Linked DNA regions of Homo sapiens. Each later gene encodes a partner of the first gene's protein in a complex. Each region holds a gene or a part of one and is shown on either strand. Other genes may lie near its edges.

Region 1 (3,773 bases):
GGCAACACAGACTCGCACTGTCAACAAGCATGGCGATGAGATCATCACCTCCACCACCAGCAACTATGAGACCCAGACTTTCTCATCCAAGACTGAGTGGAGGGTCAGGTACTGTCGGGCAAGAGGGTGGGGATGGAAAGGCCGGCTGCACTACCTAAGGTGCTGGGCTGAGCGATGCTGACACTCCCTGCCTGTTTTTAGGGCCATCTCTGCTGCCAACCTGCACCTAAGGACCAATCACATCTATGTTTCATCTGACGACATCAAGGAGACTGGCTACACCTACATCCTTCCCAAGAATGTGCTTAAGAAGTTCATCTGCATATCTGACCTTCGGGCCCAAGTGAGTAAGTGGACTCAGCTAGGCCACAGTGTGTGCCCAACTCATTTTGTGCCTAAAACTCAGACCTGAGATTGTCTGGAACTTGAGATGCTGGTTTCAAGATTCATGGATGAGTAATTATACAAGGATAGCCAAAACAACGAGGTGGGTTTTGGCCCCATGAGATAGCAAAAGCTGTGGCAGCTGAGAGAAGGTAGTAATTGTAGTATTGGCCTGATAGTATTTGGAAGAGAACAGATATGGTCAGAAACAAATTCCTGACCAGGTGTGCGTGCTGGCTCATGCCTGTAATCCCAACACTCGGCTGGGCACAGTGGCTAATGCCTATAATCCCAGCACTTTGGGAGGCCTAGGTGGGTGGATCACCTGAGGTCAGGGGTTTGAGACCAGCCTGACCAATATGGTGAAACCCTGTCTCTACTAAAAATACAAAAAATTAGCCAGGCATGGTGGCATGCGCCCGTAGTTGCAGCTACTAGGGAGGTTGAGACAGGAGAATTGCTTGAACCCGGGAGGTGAGGTGGAGCTTGCAGTGAGCCAAGATTGCATCACTGCACTCCAGCCTGGGCAACAGAGCAAGACCCCGTCTAAAAAAACAAAACCAAAAAAAACGTGGCTGTAGTCCCAGCTACTCAGGAGGATGAGGTTGCTTGAACGCAAGCAGTGAGCTTTGATGACCCCACTGCACTCCAGGCTGGGCACAGTGGCTCATGACTGTAATCCCAGCACTGTGGGAGGCCGAGGTGGGCAGATCTTTTGAGCCCAGGAGTTCGAGACCAGCCTGGGCAACATGACGAAATGGAGTCTCTACAAAAAAAAAAAAAAAAAACTAGCCAGGCATGGTGGCATACACCTGTAATCTCAGCTACTCAGGAGGCTGAGGTGGGAGGATCACCTGATCCTGGAGGGTGGTGAGTGTAGTGAGCTGAGATCATGTCACTGCCTGCTAGCCTGGGTGACAGAGTGATACCCTGCTTCAAAAAAGAGAAAAGATGCATAACTTTACTAGTGTATCAGGGATATTATAGTTTATAAAACATCATTTTGGGCCAAGGTGGGTGAATCACTTGAGGTCAGGAGTTCAAGACCAGCTTGGCCAACGTGGCGAAACCCCGTCTCTCTTAAATATATGAAAATTAGCGGGGCATGGTGGCATGTGCCTGTAGTCCCAGCTACTCAGGAAGCTGAGGCAGGAGAATTGCTTGAACCCAGGAGGCGGAGGTCGCAGTGAGCTGAGATCACACCACTGCACTCCAGCCTTGCTGACAGAGTGAGACTCCATCTCAAACCCACTATTTAGTGGCTGTCAGGTTGGCAAATTTGAAAAGATTGTTAATATCCTGTGTGGGTGAGTTTATAGTAAACAGATCCTCTTTCTTTCTTGGTGATAATGTAAAACTTAAAATAGCACCAAGTGCTGGTTTTCCAGATGTTTTCAGCTTGTGAAAATACACTGAGCTGCATGTGTGCTCATTTGCTTGTGAATACTATGCTTAATAATCAGCTGGGGAGCTTGTGAGCAGTGCAGATTCCTGGACCCCACTCAGGAGATTCTGATGTGGTAAGTCCGCGATGAGGTCCATGTCTAACATTTTGAACAAGCACCCCAGCTGATTCTGATACAGGGGGTTCTGATCACGTTTTAAGAAACTCTGTCCTCGTTCTTGGGGGAAGGAAGGAAACAGAGGGCTGGCAGCTCCAACTCTGACCTGGTACTAAGAAGAGTTTTGGTTCCTGACCCCTTTGTCTCCAGATTGCAGGATACCTATATGGGGTGAGCCCACCAGATAACCCCCAGGTGAAGGAGATCCGCTGCATTGTGATGGTGCCGCAGTGGGGCACTCACCAGACCGTGCACCTGCCTGGCCAGCTGCCCCAGCATGAGTACCTCAAGGTAATGGGGAGTGATGGAGCCTGGGAGTGTGGAAAAGCTGGTGCGATTCCTGTCTGTGGATGGGATTCAGCTCTGTACTCCTCTTTACCTATAGGAGATGGAACCCTTAGGTTGGATCCACACTCAGCCCAATGAGTCCCCGCAGTTATCACCCCAGGATGTCACCACCCATGCCAAGATCATGGCTGACAACCCATCTTGGGATGGCGAGAAGACCATTATCATCACATGCAGGTGGGCCTGGGCTCCTTGGGAGGAAGTATGGTGGGGCAGGGATTGCAGGCCAGGGCCCAGAACAGTGGCCTGAGCTGTTACTCTGTCCTCGTTCCTCCCCCAGCTTCACGCCAGGCTCCTGTACACTGACGGCCTACAAGCTGACCCCCAGTGGCTACGAATGGGGCCGCCAGAACACAGACAAGGGCAACAACCCCAAGGGCTACCTGCCTTCACACTATGAGAGGGTGCAGATGCTGCTGTCGGACCGTTTCCTTGGCTTCTTCATGGTCCCTGCCCAGTCCTCGTGGAACTACAACTTCATGGGTAAGTGGGAGGAGCCTGGGGATGTGGGGATAGCAGTAGGGATAAGGTGAGGCCATCGCCCTTTGCACTTGGGGCCTGGCTGGCTTGGAGGTGGCGCAGGCTGCATGAGGCAGGAGCCCTGTTAACATTGGCTGTTTCCTTCTCCCCGAAGGTGTTCGGCATGACCCCAACATGAAATATGAGCTACAGCTGGCGAACCCCAAAGAGTTCTACCACGAGGTGCACAGGCCCTCTCACTTCCTCAACTTTGCTCTCCTGCAGGAGGGGGAGGTTTACTCTGCGGATCGGGAGGACCTGTATGCCTGACCGTTTCCCTGCCTCCTGCTTCAGCCTCCCGAGGCCGAAGCCTCAGCCCCTCCAGACAGGCCGCTGACATTCAGCAGTTTGGCCTCTTTCCCTCTGTCTGTGCTTGTGTTGTTGACCTCCTGATGGCTTGTCATCCTGAATAAAATATAATAATAAATTTTGTATAAATAGGAGTTCAGGGGCTGGTTTGTTTTTTTTTTCCCCCCCAAACTCAAATTCTGGATTTAGGTCTAACAGGAGGCTGGACTGGAGCGGTTCACAGCAAGATGCTGGGCTCGGCTGTGAAGGGGGGAGTATGAGGCCCCCTTCCTATTCAGGGCTTTGGGGTAGATAGCCCCTGGACTCAGTGGAGACCTGAGGCAGGGCTGGGCTTTCACACTCCGCTGCCTTGACCACATTTGCTGCTTTTTCCACAAAACTACTTGGAAGCTCTCGCCTCCTTTCCACAGTTTTGGGAGCAGTTGCCCTTTCCCGGGTCTAGGAACTCTGTGGCTTGTGCTGAGCGGCTGCGGTGTCCAGCCCAGCCCTTTAAGCTTTCTGTGTCAGTCCTGGTCAGGAAAACAAGCACACAGGCAGGCAGTTTGTGTACAGCCGGGCGGAGGCCAGAGACCGGCTGCCTACCTGTCACCTCTCGCCTGGAGCGGGCCACTGCCAAGTTGGCCCCATGACTCCAAACGGGCGGAGCCTGGA
Region 2 (7,402 bases), on another chromosome or scaffold:
TCCTCCCAAGGCAGGGCCGAGAGCCCGTCCACGGCTGCTCCACACACACCGAGGGCCGCCCTGTGCGGTGGTGCGGGGGAGGGTCTGCAAACTACGACCCCCAGGTGAACCTGCCCGCCGCTCCTCTCTGTAAGTCAGAGTCTCGCTGGCCCACCACCACACTCGCCCGCTCAGGCGCTGACCAGGGTGGCTCTCCTGCTCTGCTGGCATAGCTCAGTGGTTGTGACAGAGACCATCTGGGCTGCAAAGCTAAAGATATTTGCCGTCTGGCCTTCTACAGAGAAGGTCTGCCCGCCTGCATACAAGCTTCCGTCCACCTCCACAGGCTTCAGCTTCCACCTCCACGGCTCCCTCTCTCTTTGCTCAAGTCCCTCCCCTGCAAAATGAAACTCACCTATAAGATGGGGTCAGATGCAGATGTTCAGGTCCTTGGCACCAGCCTGACCAGTGAGCCCGCCCTCCTCACGGGGAGAGATGTGAGCACTGAGGTAGGTAGGTCTCTAACATGGAGCCAAGGTGCCCCTCCTCTGGAGTGTGGGCTAGGGCCTGTGACTCTGACGGGACAAGATGTCACTCCTGCGCTTAGGTTATGTGGCAAAGACAAGGAACTTTGCAGCTGTAATTAGAGCCCCTGAATCAGCTGACTGAGCCAATCAAGAGAGAAACACCCTGGGTGGGCCTGACTGCATCAGGTGAGCCCTTCAGGGACCAAACCCTTTCTGCTTTTTGTGTGTGTGTGTGTGTGTGTGTGTGTGTGTGTGTGTGTGTGTGTTTGAGATGGAGTCTTGCTCTGTCGCCCAGGCTGGAATGCAGTGGCGCGATCTCAGCTCACTGCAACCTCTGCCTCCAGGGCGATTCTCCTGCCTCAGCCTCCCAAGTAGCTGGGACTACAGGCATGCGCCACCATGCCCAAATAATTTTTGTATTTTTAGTAGAGATGGGGCCTTGCCATGTAGGCCAGGCTGGTCTCAAACTCCTGAACTCAAGTGATCTGCCCGCCTCAGCCTCCCAAAGTGCTGGGATTACAGGCGTGAGCCACAGCGCCCAGTTAATTGTTGTACTTTTAGTAGAGATGGGGTTTCGCCATGTTGGCCAGGCTGGTCTCGAACTCCTGACCTCAGGTGATCCACCTGCCTTAGCCTCCCAGACTGCTGGGATTAAGGCGTGAGCCCCCGCACCCGGCCCCAAACCCTTTCTGAAAGATGATTCTCCCACTGGCCCGAATAACTGAATATGGACAAATGTCAGCTCAGCCTGCAGCACTGTAGGGGCAGACCACCACGGTGGAACAGAGTCCCGAGCTGGCAGCGTCCGGGAGCTGCAAGTGTCCCTAGCCAACACTGGCCAGAACGGGGACCCTGGCCCTGCAAAGGTAAGGCACTGAGCTCTGTCAATAACCAGTGGGCTCAGAAGAAGACCCCAAGATGATGGACCCCAAAAAACAACCCTCAGTTACAACCTCCTGAGAGCCCTTGAGGCTGTGGTACCCTGGCTCCTGACTCACAGATCCTGTGAGATAATAAAATGGTGCTGTTTCAGCTGCTAAATGGGTGATTTGCTATGAAGGGCAGAAAACAAAGGGAAGCAGTGTGACCAGCAAGAGCGGCCGCTCACTCATGTCCTTCCATGTCCGGAGTCAGCATGGTGTAGACTGAGAAAACATTTTATTCATATTCCTTTTTCTTTTTGTTTTGAGACGGAGTCTTGCCCTATCGCCAGGCTGGAGTGCGGTGGCACAATCTCGCCTCTGGGGTTCAAGCAATTCTCCTGCCTCAGCCCCCCGAGTAGCTGGGACTACAAGCGTGCGCCACCATGCCCAGCTAACTTTTTGTATTTTAGTAGAGACAGGGTTTCACCACGTAGGCCAGGATGGTCTTGATCTCCTGACCTCCTGATCTGCCTGCCTCGGCCTCCCAAAGTGTCAAGATTAAAGGCATGAGCCACTGTGCCTGGCCTCCTTTTTCTCTTTTGAGACTGGGCCTTGCTCTGTGGCCCAGGCTGGAGTGCAGTGGTGCGGTCATAGCTCACTGCAGCCTCAAACCCTAGGGTGAAGCCACCCTCCTGCTTCAGACTCCCAAATTGCTGGGATTACACACGTGAGCCGCCCCGTCCGGCTGGGGCACTGTGATTTTTAATAACTCTCATGCCACCCAGTTGTCTACAATCCAGGGACAAAGAGGTTTGGGTCCCCGTCTTACAAAAAAAAGAAACCAAAGATCCAAGAGGCTATTGAATAAGTGACGTGTTGTCTGACTGCTTACTTCCTGCTGAGAGCTGCCTCAATTACATTACATGCCTGTAACCATTCATTCTCACCACCCCCTGTGAAGTGGGTGGAGTTACCAGCCCCATTTGACAAATGAGGAAACGGAGGCTAGGAGAAGGCAGCTCACTTGCCCAGTCAAAAATGCTAGGCTGGGCATGGTGGCTCATGCCTGAAATCCCAGCAATTTAGGGGGCTGAGGCAGGCAGATCGCTTGAGGCCAGGAGTTTGAGACCATCCTGGCCAACATGGCCTCTCTACTAAAAATACAAATATTAGCCGGGCGTGGTGGTACACATTAATTCCAGCTACTCGGGAGGCTGAGGCACAAGAATCACTTGAACCTGGGAGGCGGAGGTTGCAGTGAGCTGAGATCGCACCACTGCACTCCAGCCCGGGTGACAGAGCGAGACTGCGTCTCAAAAAAAATAATGAAAATAAATAAAAGAGGTGCTTCCGCATGCGTCCTCATCATCTCTGTTGCTGGGTTTATTTGAAATTTTTAAAGAGGGGGTACCGACAGCGGGAGCCTCCTCACCTTCGCGGCCTCCCTGGAACTTTACCCGGATCGTCTTGTCGATGTACTTGGACAAGTCCAAGATGCTCTCCTTTTTCTTCTTCTCCTTATCCTGCGGGGAAAGCAGAGCGCATGAGACCTGGAGCGCGGCCCGAGCTCCACGCCCCCCGGCTCCAGATTCCGCCGCGCGCTCACCGCCATCTTGTCGCGCCGTGTGGCTCTTCGCAGGCACCGCCCCGCGCCCTTTGACCTCCCCCACGCGCATGCGCGGCGCATGCGTGGCCCGGGGTCTCGGGGCGTTGCTGGGAAACATCTGCCGTTGGTTGCGGCGGGCACCGGCCGACATGGCGGCAGCGGTGGCGGCTGCGCTGGCGCGGCTTTTGGCGGCCTTTCTGCTCCTCGCGGCCCAGGTGAGCGCGGCACCGGTCCCGACGGCACCGCGGGCTGCGGCCCTTCGGCCTCTCTGTCCCCGGGCTACGCGCAGGAACGACCCCGCTCGGCCCGTCTTGGGGGTCCAGCCTCGGGGATCCGCCGTCCCCGCGTTGTCGGCCGGCGGTGCCGGGGCTCGGCCGTGACCTTGCGGGTCTGTCCCCGGCTCCTCTCCTTTCCCCGCCTCGGAGGCCCTCCGCCGCTGCAGCGCCACTCACTTCCCACCGGGTCTGAAATTTGTGCCCCCTCCATCCTCCGGTTCTGCTTCTCCGTTTCGGGGTCTCCAGTTGCCGCCGGGGACGCCTCTCTCCGGCTCTGTGGCCTTGAGCAGGCGGCTGCCCACCCCTCTCCGAGCCTCAGTTTCCCCTTAGGCGGAACGGGCACGGTGCTAAGCTAACCTCACCCTAGGGGGTGCGGTGGGGGAACCCAGAGGCGTCCCGCGCGTCCCCCAGTAACTGGCAGCATCCTGGAGCGGCCAGGAGTCCAGCCCTGCACTGGGGTCGGATCCCCGCTCCATCTTTTACTCCGTGACCTTGGACGATGGAATTCGTGTGCAGAAGGAGGACCGACTATGGTGTGGATTCTGGAGGTTCTGTCCAGGGTGACCAGCGCCCAGGGCCAACAGGCCTTCATTATGTTCATTGTGTGTCATTTGATGTAAAGAGTGTCAGGTTCTAGTGGGGACAGTCTACGAGATCGCACTGTCATAACTGCATCTTTTATTTTCTTAATTCCAAATCTTCCCTCTCTCCTGAGTTCGGTGGCTCAGGCAATGGAACCTGGAGCAGCCCCACAAATGCAGCCCTTAACCTTCACTACCCCCTCAGAGTTCTCACTCTTAAGGCGTCGCCGCCACCTGGCTCCTCAGTCTCCACTCCTCCAGCCCCACCGCTATCCCTCTGCTGTGGCTGCCTTTGTCCACCACATCCCCAGTCCATCCTCGACACAGCAGGGGTGACCCTTTCAAAGTATGTCAGACCGTGTCGCATCCAGATGAGTGCGCCGTCCAGTTGTGACCTGGCTGCTGGGGAAGCCTGCAGCTCATTGCAGTCGCTTCACTCTCTAGTCTTTTCTCTTACCCTGAGATGCCCCTGGTCTCTGCAAGGCTGTCGGGCCCCCTCGGAAGCTTTCTGAGAACCCCAGTCCTACCCCCAGCTGCTCTGTCAGCCCCCTTTGGACTCCCCCCATTCTGCAGCCAGGCACCTAGAGCTCCCCAGACATTTGGAAGGAGGGGGAAAGCCAGAGGTGGAAGAAAGATCACAGAACTCTGTGGAGAGAGGGACTCAGTTTGCCTGGGAAGGCTTTTCCGAAGCAGATCTATTTTTTTTTTTTGAGACGGAGTCTCGCTCTGTCGCCCAGGCTGGAGTGCAGTGGCATGATCTAGGCTCACTGCAACCTCTGCCTCCCGGTTCAAGCAATTCTCCCACCTCAGCCTCCCGAATAGCTGGGATTACAGGTGCATGCCACCACTCCTGGCTAAATTTTTTTTTTTTTTTTTTTAGTAGAGACGAGGTTTCACCATGTTGGTCAGGCTGGTCTCGAACTTCAGACCTCAGGTGATCCACCTGCTTCGGCCACCCAAAGTGCTGGGATGACAGGCGTGAGCCACCGTGCCCGGCCCCGAGGCAGGTGTTCTGAATGATGAGTAGGAGTTTGCCGGGTCGGCAGGAGGGGAAGGGTGTTGGAAGCACCAGAAGCAGCATAAGCGGGGGCTGGGAGGTGTGAGAGCTGGCAGGTTATTTGGGGTTGGCAAGGGGTGGGCTGTGGCTGGAGTGTAGGGTGGAATAATGCTGGAAGGAAGGGTTTACACCCTGAAAGATGTCACCACCAAGGAGGCCCGGGGGGTGGGCCGTGGAGGGTTGCTGGAGCAGGGGCACAGAGGAGGGGGCAGTGGTGCGAGTGGCCCCAGGCAGAGAGTGAAGGCAGAGCATTCAGCCTCCTAGTCTGGATGACAGGTTGTCTGGTGGAAGCCAGGCCGTGGAAGGCGCTTGGTGCTGGGGTGCGTGGACTTTAACCTGGGCGGGCTGAGGAGTGTGAGCTTTATCCGGAGGGTGGGGAGTCAAAGGATGTGTCAGAGGGACGTGAGAGAGCAGGTGTTCCTGCCCCTTCCAGAACCCTGGTTGTAAATACACCCTGAGACGCCTGTCCCTGGAGGGGGGCAGTGCTTCGCGGCAGTGGAAATTTGAGTCCGATTGCCCAAGAATGAGACTTGCTCTCAGGGCAGGAGCCTGGTTGGTGACAGTCCTCAACTCGCTTGCTTGCTACCATTCTGTGACCCTGAGCAAGGAAGTCGACCTCCCCAGTGAGACACCTCCCTTCCCCCACCCCACGGAGCCCGCTCCTCAGCAGATCTGAGCTGGAGCTGGTGGCCCTGGCTGGACCCGGCCCGGCTCCTGGAACTCCTCAGTCTTCCCAGAAGGGAGGCTCTCCCCGCCTGGACTCACTGGCCTGTTTCAAAGGCCCTTGATGTGGATGCTTTCACAGTCACTTGGAAGCGGGGTTTCTAAGCCTAGTAGTTTCTGAACCTGTGTGCGGTTGCAAAGCGTTTGTGCTGCAATTGTGAAGGATTTGGAGGTCGAGGCTTGGGCTTTGAGCCTGTCCTTGTAGCCTGAGCTTTTTCTGCTCCTCCAAATTTCGGTGGGCCTGTCTAGAACTCAGGGCCCTCTTAGAGCTGTGGCCTTTGGAAGAATTGTTCCCCGTTCCTTTAACTCAGCAGGTGAGGAAACTCTTCCCGGTGAGATGCCGCGTTCTCTGGCCTTTGATAGAGGCACAGGCTTGTTTTTTTAATGGAAAACCAGTTTTGCGAATTGTGGAGAGGAAAATGCATGAATGTGCTTTTGTGCTTTTAAATGACCCTTTTAGAGAGAAGCAGAGAAGCAGTTCTATCAGTTCCCATTTTACACAAAAGACACTTTTCACCAGAGTCCCTGATCCCATAGAACAGAGCTTGGCAAGTGTTTTCTGGGAAGGGCTAGACAGTAGTTTTGCTGGGCTCTGTGGCCCACGTGGCCTCTGGTTTGGTTGCTTGGTTTCTCCTGTTGTTCTTCCAGAGCCGGAGACCCTTCCTTAGGAATGGGCTTGGCTGTGTTCCAATAAAACTTTATTTACAAACACAGAAGGTGGGCCGGACTGTGGATTCTTGGCCTCTGCCGTGACCCATAACATCCCTCCTGGAGGAGGGGTTCTGGGGGGCTGTGTTGGAAGGGGCACCCTCCGGGCTCGGCACCGGGGCCAGACTAAGGGGTGCTCTCACGGGCAGGCAGTCTGGTGGGCAGAACTGGAAAGAAAGGGCTCCTGACTCTGCCTGGGCTCTGGGGGAGGTCACATGGGAGGTGCTTGGAGTGGGGCTGGGGCAGCTGTGGGAAGGAAGCAGCATTAGCCAAGAGCTATGAGACCCCCAGTCGATTGTGGGGACCGGGGCTCCGTGGGCTTTCACCATGCTGCCACCCCGAGGTCACCAGGGCCTTGACCCAGATGCTCCCAGACCAGGCCGGAGACTTTGCATGATTTCAGTGATGAGGGCCCGGCTGTTGGAGAGCCCGTCTGTGCCTGTGTGCTGGGGTTGGTGTCTGGCACCAGGGACCTTTGGGACCTTTAGCCAAGCCAGAGCTGTCCTTCCCCAGTCCTAGCTTGGCAGAGCTGCGTCTGCACTGTTTTCCCTTGTGGCGTTGTGGTGTCGGCCCGTTTGGTGCGCAGCTCAGCATCCGTTCAGACATGTGGCTGCCATCCTGTTCCTGATGAGGCAAATGGCTGTGGCCTGTTTGTTTCCGTGACAGGTCCCCTGGGGACCAGGGGGTGCGGCTGTCTCTCTGTCTGGGAGGTTTACAGCCTGGCAGGAGCCCTGCAGCCCCAGAAGGCTGAGGGCTGGGTGCTCCTGAGAACGGGCAGGCCTAGGGCATGGGGTGGGTCTCCTTGGTCCCTGGCACGTGGTTTTTCTTCTGGGACCCCTCCTCCCTGTGCAGGCCGGGCTCCCCTGGGGGCCCACACTGAGGGTCTGCAGTGTGGCACAGCAGCTGGGACCTGGGCCCCATCGCTGTGAGACCCTCTGGTGACTGGCATCCTGGCGAGATGGAGATGTCTTTGTCAGCTGCTGGGTGGGGGCCCTGGGCAGGGGAGCAGAAGGAAGGTGGGGATGGCAGGTGCGGGCGGCTGGACTGGGCTCTGCTGGGAGGGGGAGCAGGAGGAGGGTGGGG
Region 3 (6,352 bases), on another chromosome or scaffold:
CAGAAAGCTTCAGATGTAAACCATCTTTCAATAACATTCCCTTCCTGAATGCTGAGATGAGAACATGAAAATCATACCACATGTCTGCCATCTGTATTTGTACTTGTCAACAGCTCTGTTTTGGGATAAACAGTTTTGAAATAAGAATCAATTCGACTTGTTGGAAGATTAGCCAAGGAATAGCTCAAAGACCAAAACAGAAAATGAAGTCAGATAGTCTGAAAATCGAGCACAATTTTGTTTCTCGCTAAACATTCTGTTTTGTCACAGCCCAAGAGAAAGAGTGTGGCAGACAGGGTTTGGGGGCACACAGACAGGGAAAATGTATGTTCTCAAGTAAAAAATTCTTCAACCTGGAACAAATGTCTTCGCTACAATGCAACTAGAAATCATTCACTGACCTCTAGGAGACTACAGTTAAGAACAAAGCAATTTAAGCATTTACACTTTGTTTCATGGTTCTACTATGTGAAGGTATACACAGGGGACAACTTGAGCGGGTTCAAGTGCATAATACAGTCCTTTATTACCATAAAAATGGCAGCACTTCCCAAAGTTGATCTTGATTAAAAGTAGTTCCATGGTTGAAAACAGTACTCCACTGTAGAGCTATTAAACTAGAGAGATGGCAAGGGGAAAATAAAGACTTATATATCAAAGGCGAGGTCAGGGAAGAAGTTAGAAAAAACAGGACGCTACAGATTAGTGGGAGACTACAATGGAATTGCTTTTAGAGGTGGCTGATATAAGTGAATGAAGGGACACAATAACCTGCAGCCCCACATATTCTACAAAACAAATGAGAACATGTATGCTCCACTTGGAGAGCCATCCATTTTCTCCTTAAAAGAACTCATTTATAAAAGAGCAAATTGGTGATTTGTACTTACATACTGGACCTTTTCCAAGCCCCTGTCAAGAAGTGATAAATTATTGAAGCATAGCATAAAGTGTTTTATTTTCAGTGTGCACACGGTAAAACCCTGTGAAATGCTTCTGTTCACCTTTCCCAAGTTATTAATTAAAAAATAATTGTTTCCAATTACTCTCTGATCTTTAAAATAAACCAAGACAAAACACTACATACACCTCTCCAGAATCAGCACTGCCCCTTCCCTCTCTCCTTCTCGATCCTGCCCCCCATCCTTCAACCAAGCAGTTGTTTCGAATCACACCATCGGCTCCTGAAATAGGAATGCTATTTAGATTGGGAAGGGAGGGAAGAGGAAGTCCAATACAACATTCACACAATTGTCTGGTATTCATTCAACCACAGTGCCCAGATATATTTGTTGTTCCTAGAGACAGCGTAAAACTGTTTGGAGAATAAAGCAGGGTTGTGGAAAGCTCATTAATAAATTGTGAAAATCCTCTCAGCAGGAGTCACATAACCAGAGGAGCTGCCTTGTGCCAAGCAACATAAAGCCTGGTGCTCTGCTCCTGGACAATGTCAAAGGCAAATACAGCTGATTTTTGAGAAAGGCCTCCCTACAGCCACTTGCTAGACCAGAGTTAGGAAAAATTCTTTCCCAATCTCAGCTCGGCAATTAGAACCTGAATTATGTTTACAAACTCTAGGCTTTGCTTTAATCTGACTGTGAGAGATGTACAGGAATGGCCCCTCCCCTACTGTGTTCATAAACTGAGAGAATAACGTTGATGCCAATGCTCCTGAAAGGGAGCAGGGAAACCTAAAAAGTCTAATTGCATAAGGAGATGCAGGGGGACCACTGACAGGAGGGCTTTCTCCTCACTGAAATCTTGTTCATCTTTAGGATTTCTCCAGCACCTCAGTTCGAATTCCCACTCCTTATGTGCAAGTGGCACTCTTGGCTTTCCAATTCTGTTTTTTATTTAGGTGACTCAATCAGTGGCTGAACTTCTGATCCTGTGGCCCCTTTTTGTAGCTTCAGACTGAAACTGGATGCCTTTGTAGAACATATTCACGCAAGGATTCTGTATGAACAGAAAAGGATGCAATAAAGGAGGATTCCTCCAAAATGTTTTAATTATATGTCCATACAATATATAAAATATATGCATCATTTTAGCTGGATAAGAAAAGCAAGTCAAATGAAATGACACTTCTCGAAACTTAAGTTAAATAATCTTGTAGGAAGAGGTATATTTTGTCTTTTTTTAATTATTTTAGCATTCTGTACACTGACAACGAGGTAAAAGAAAATGACTGAAACTTACAAGTGAAAGAACATTTCACAATTAAATCCACAATTGTATACATTTATCTTACTCACATGTCAGTGAAAAATCACCAACTATTATAAAAAGAGGACAAATTGTATCACAAAAGAAGCAAAAATTAGAAAAAATTCATAAAAAAATATATCCAACTATGAAAAGCGTTGCTCTCTTGGTGTCTTCACATCCGTCTCTTCTGTGTACTGATGTACAACACTGAAAAGAAAAAAATACATAAATTGAAATTTAAAAAACCCTGCTTGTAAGTATACATAGTAGCAAGTTTAAAAGCCAACAGATTTTGGTCTGATACATCTGACATTTAAAAGGAATTCTCGTATCATTCAATTAACTCTAGAAGTACTGTAAGACTAGTTTTATGAATCTACACCCAGGTTTGATGTCTTACAAAACTGTCCTAATTTCATCCATGTGTCTCACTGACTCTTTAAAGTGTGACCAGGAAGATAAAATAAAATATATGTGAAAGTCCCTGGTATCTAAGAATGCTTTATAGTTAGAAGTATAAGAATTATGCTTTTCAGGGCTGAACACGGTGGCTCACGCCTGCAATCTTAGCACTTTGGGAGGCTGAAGCGGGTGGATCACTTGAGCTCAGAAGTTTGAGACCAGCCTGGGCAACATGGTGAAACCCCGTTTCTACCAAAAATACAAAAAATTAACCAGGCATGGTGGTATATGCACTTGTAGTCCCAGCGACTTAGAACGCTGAGGTGGGAGGACTGCTTGAGCTTGGGAGGCAGAGGCTGCAGTGAGCTGAGATTGCACAACTACACTCCAGCCTGGGCCACAGAGCGAGACTTCATCTCAGGAAAAAAAAAAAAAAAAAAAGATGCTTTTCAGAAAGTAAATCAGTAAATCTAACCAGGCTAGATCTCAAATTAAGAATAAACAACATATTTTCATCTGTCTCCCCAATACAAACTCTAAACTTGCTGTTTACCTTCTTAAATGCAACAGGATAAACAAGAGCTAAGGAGTTTATTTTTTATTTTTATTTTTTAATGATACCAAAGTCCTTATTCTGAGTTCCCGTTAAAAGTCTCATACTTTGGTGTTACCTAATGTTCTGCTTAGTGGTCTTCTCATGACTACCAACATGAACTCGTAGGATGTGTGGTCCGTAGGAATGAAACAAAATGAAATGCTTGGGTCACTTTGGCCAAACTAGAGGTGGTTCTCCCTTCCACCTTCCATGCCTACTCGGCTTCTGAGAGGTCTGCTCAAAGCGAACAGTAAGGTGTCTTCATCAAAGAACATAGCACAGATGAATCAAATAAGTCAAGATCCTCTTTAAGAGCCAATGATGTGAACTTGGGAGTCTAAAGATGAGTGTCACTGATTACATCATGGGAAATGTGACATGAAGGGAAGCATCAGAATGCCAGTACAGCCGCCCCCCAACCCTGCCCCCCAAGTCCTAGGGGTAGTGTGCACGTTAAAGGATCTACCCTATCAACACGCACAGAACCCAACCTGCCAGTGACTGCTGCCATTAGCTGTCTTGAGGTGAGACAAGATCATAACATTTCTTAGGAAAAAGAGGAGGTCAAATAAGGATATGAAAAATAGGATAAATAATTCTATAAATAGAAAGGACTAGAAAGCCAGGAAATAATGTATGTAAAAATATGATATGAAGAAATAAGGTCCTGTAAGCATAGGGGACAGACTCTTATTATAAAAGTCAGGAAGTTTAGTTTATAGCAAAGAGATCCAACTATTTAGGGGGTTGAAGACATCCAGAATTAAAGAAATCAACAAAAAATCTGAACTCAAGAATCCCAGAGTTTCTGGGAGATGGAACCAAAAAGTGGGGTAATTCTCATAATTCTGATATCTTTCCCTCCCCACCAAAAATACAAATATGACTTTATTATAATTTTCATTTTTAAACTAGGTACTTAAAAATAACTATAAAAATCATAGCAATTTATTAGTTGTTAAAAACTGAGTAACTTTTTCTATTTTGCCATTTTTGCCAAACTGAAGGATGCAAATCTGCATAGAAAGCATCTGAATGTTTAATAGAGAAGGGACAAATAGGACGAACTGCCAAATTATGCAAATCAAAGACAGCAGGGAAACGGTGCCCATTCTTACATCTCCAACTTCCAGGCTACAAGAAGCAGGAATATGTGTTGGGGAGATATACTACACTATATTCGAGAAAGCAGGGTTCCAGGTAAGGAGAACAATGTCCCTCAGTTCCTCATCACTAAAGGAAGGGAAGGAGAGAATTTTGGTTTCAAAATTCCATGAAGCATCTACAAAATAACTGGTCAAACTGAAGATCTGACATATAAGCATTTTAAAATAATCAAGCCTAAAAGTGGACTTTTAAATTATCTAGAAACCTCTTTGGTGATCTGGATTATAAATAGAAAGGCTTATTTTGAATGCTGTACTGTAGGGCGAAGAAATGTTACCATTGTTTCCTCGGATAAATGCATCCCCATACTTATTCTTCAGTTGTCCATTTACATATTCTTCTGTCTGCTCCAGGGCTATATTCATGTAGCCATCCAGGCAAGCCAGGACCCCTGCAGACATATTTAGTCAAAAAGAAGATACACAAGGCAAATAAGAGTTGAAAATTACAGGGTATACCTTAGAGCAGACAATCTCTTTATTCATTAGTTCTTAGATGCTTAATATAAAAATTCACACCATAAATGAAACTCAACAGCTTAAGCACAAAACAACTCTATGCCAATCTGAATGAAGTCTAGGAAGGCAGTCACGCACCCACTACTACCCGGTAAAACAACAAACTGTCACTTCCCTCATGGTACGTATGACCACACAGAAACTTTTAAAGCATTCAAAAAAGTAAGAGAATAAGACTATTCCGGCAAAAATACCATTCTTTGAAAGCTAAGCACAAGGTGGGCAATTATGCATAAACAAATGATCCTTGGTTCCAGTGGCATTTCCTACTTTAGCCACTAAGTGAAATACGGGTCTGGCAGATTTATTTCATTCTTTTACAACATCTATTGCAGCAGATGAATGTACTCCAGGGTTAAAAGGAAGTCTCCACAATCTGTTAAAATAATAGAAGAGGAGACAGCAGGTGCTCCCGAAAGAACATCTTAAAGCTGTGACTCACAGTGAAGAGCAGCTTGAGAATATAGGGCAACATATTGCATTATAACACATCTTGTTCTGTTTTGTTACAGCTATAATATTTTCCAATCAAAACTAATAGAGAAAATGGCCAAAAACATTCGAGGGAGCTTTCAAGGAAACAGTTTGAGTCAATCTTTAATTGTGTTAAGATGGTATAAATTTTGTAAAATTTGACCTGATGATCTTTTTCAAAAGATGAAAATCTGTAAGCCTCTAATTCTGTCTCTAATTTAAAGTGGTATTTCCTAGAAAAAAAAATTTAAGTAAAAACAAATACTAGATTCAATTCAGTCGAGTCTATAGTTTCTCATTTGATGTCTTAACTTCATTAATATGCTCCTCACTCTCTGCCTCTGCCCCCATTATCCTCTAAACAAAAAAGTTTCCTTTCAAAATTGTGTAATGACAGCAAAAGACATTAATCTACCAGAATTCTGCTAAAAGCGGTAAACTCTCAAAGAACGAGAATGGACTGTGAATAATAAAATTATTTCCTAGCAAAAGAAAGCTTAAGCTACAACTTTAGCTCGTTTCCTGCTGTACTATTTTACATACAAACTGCAATTATAAATGAGCAAGAAAAATCTGAGGCACAATATGCAAACCTGTTTGAAAACCAATGAAAAGAATTTCAAAATGAAATGTCCAGGCTGGGCAAAGTGGCTCATGCCTGTAATCCCAGTACTTTGGGAGGTAGAAGCTGGCAGATCACTTGAGGTCAGGAGTTCAAGATCAGCCTGGCTAACATGGCGAAACCCCGTCTCTACTAAAAATACAAAAATTAGCCAGGCATGGTGGCAGGTGCCTGTAATCCCAGCTACTTGGGAGGCTGAGGCAGGAGAATCGTCTGAACTTGGGAGGCGGAGGTTGCAGTGAGCCAAGACTGAGCCACTGCACTCCAGCCTGGGCGAAAGAGTGAGACTCGGTCTCAAAAAAGAAAAAAGAAAAAAAAAAAAGAGTTCACTTCTAATTAAAATATCTATTCTCACAGCAAAGGCAA

The links.
Region 2: PRPF8 (region 1) and LSM7 share a complex: the UniProt entries of both Homo sapiens proteins name them as parts of the U4/U6-U5 tri-snRNP complex.
Region 3: PRPF8 (region 1) and LSM6 share a complex: the UniProt entries of both Homo sapiens proteins name them as parts of the U4/U6-U5 tri-snRNP complex.

What each region holds. Positions count from the first base shown.
Region 1 is NC_000017.11:1,650,112-1,653,884, reverse strand, and holds the end of PRPF8 (pre-mRNA-processing-splicing factor 8), read left to right. Parts: coding exon 1-108; intron 109-201; coding exon 202-343; intron 344-2,096; coding exon 2,097-2,237; intron 2,238-2,331; coding exon 2,332-2,471; intron 2,472-2,574; coding exon 2,575-2,777; intron 2,778-2,928; coding exon 2,929-3,083; 3' UTR 3,084-3,256; downstream 3,257-3,773. UniProt on the Homo sapiens protein: Plays a role in pre-mRNA splicing as core component of precatalytic, catalytic and postcatalytic spliceosomal complexes, both of the predominant U2-type spliceosome and the minor U12-type spliceosome.
Region 2 is NC_000019.10:2,325,586-2,332,987, forward strand, and holds the start of LSM7 (U6 snRNA-associated Sm-like protein LSm7), read right to left. Parts: upstream 3,002-7,402; 5' UTR 2,982-3,001; coding exon 2,976-2,981; intron 2,893-2,975; coding exon 2,802-2,892; intron 1-2,801. Other genes in the region: SPPL2B (signal peptide peptidase-like 2B isoform 2 precursor), read left to right, coding at 3,125-3,190. UniProt on the Homo sapiens protein: Plays a role in pre-mRNA splicing as component of the U4/U6-U5 tri-snRNP complex that is involved in spliceosome assembly, and as component of the precatalytic spliceosome (spliceosome B complex).
Region 3 is NC_000004.12:146,185,685-146,192,036, reverse strand, and holds the end of LSM6 (U6 snRNA-associated Sm-like protein LSm6), read right to left. Parts: intron 4,764-6,352; coding exon 4,650-4,763; intron 2,416-4,649; coding exon 2,381-2,415; 3' UTR 502-2,380; downstream 1-501. UniProt on the Homo sapiens protein: Plays a role in pre-mRNA splicing as component of the U4/U6-U5 tri-snRNP complex that is involved in spliceosome assembly, and as component of the precatalytic spliceosome (spliceosome B complex).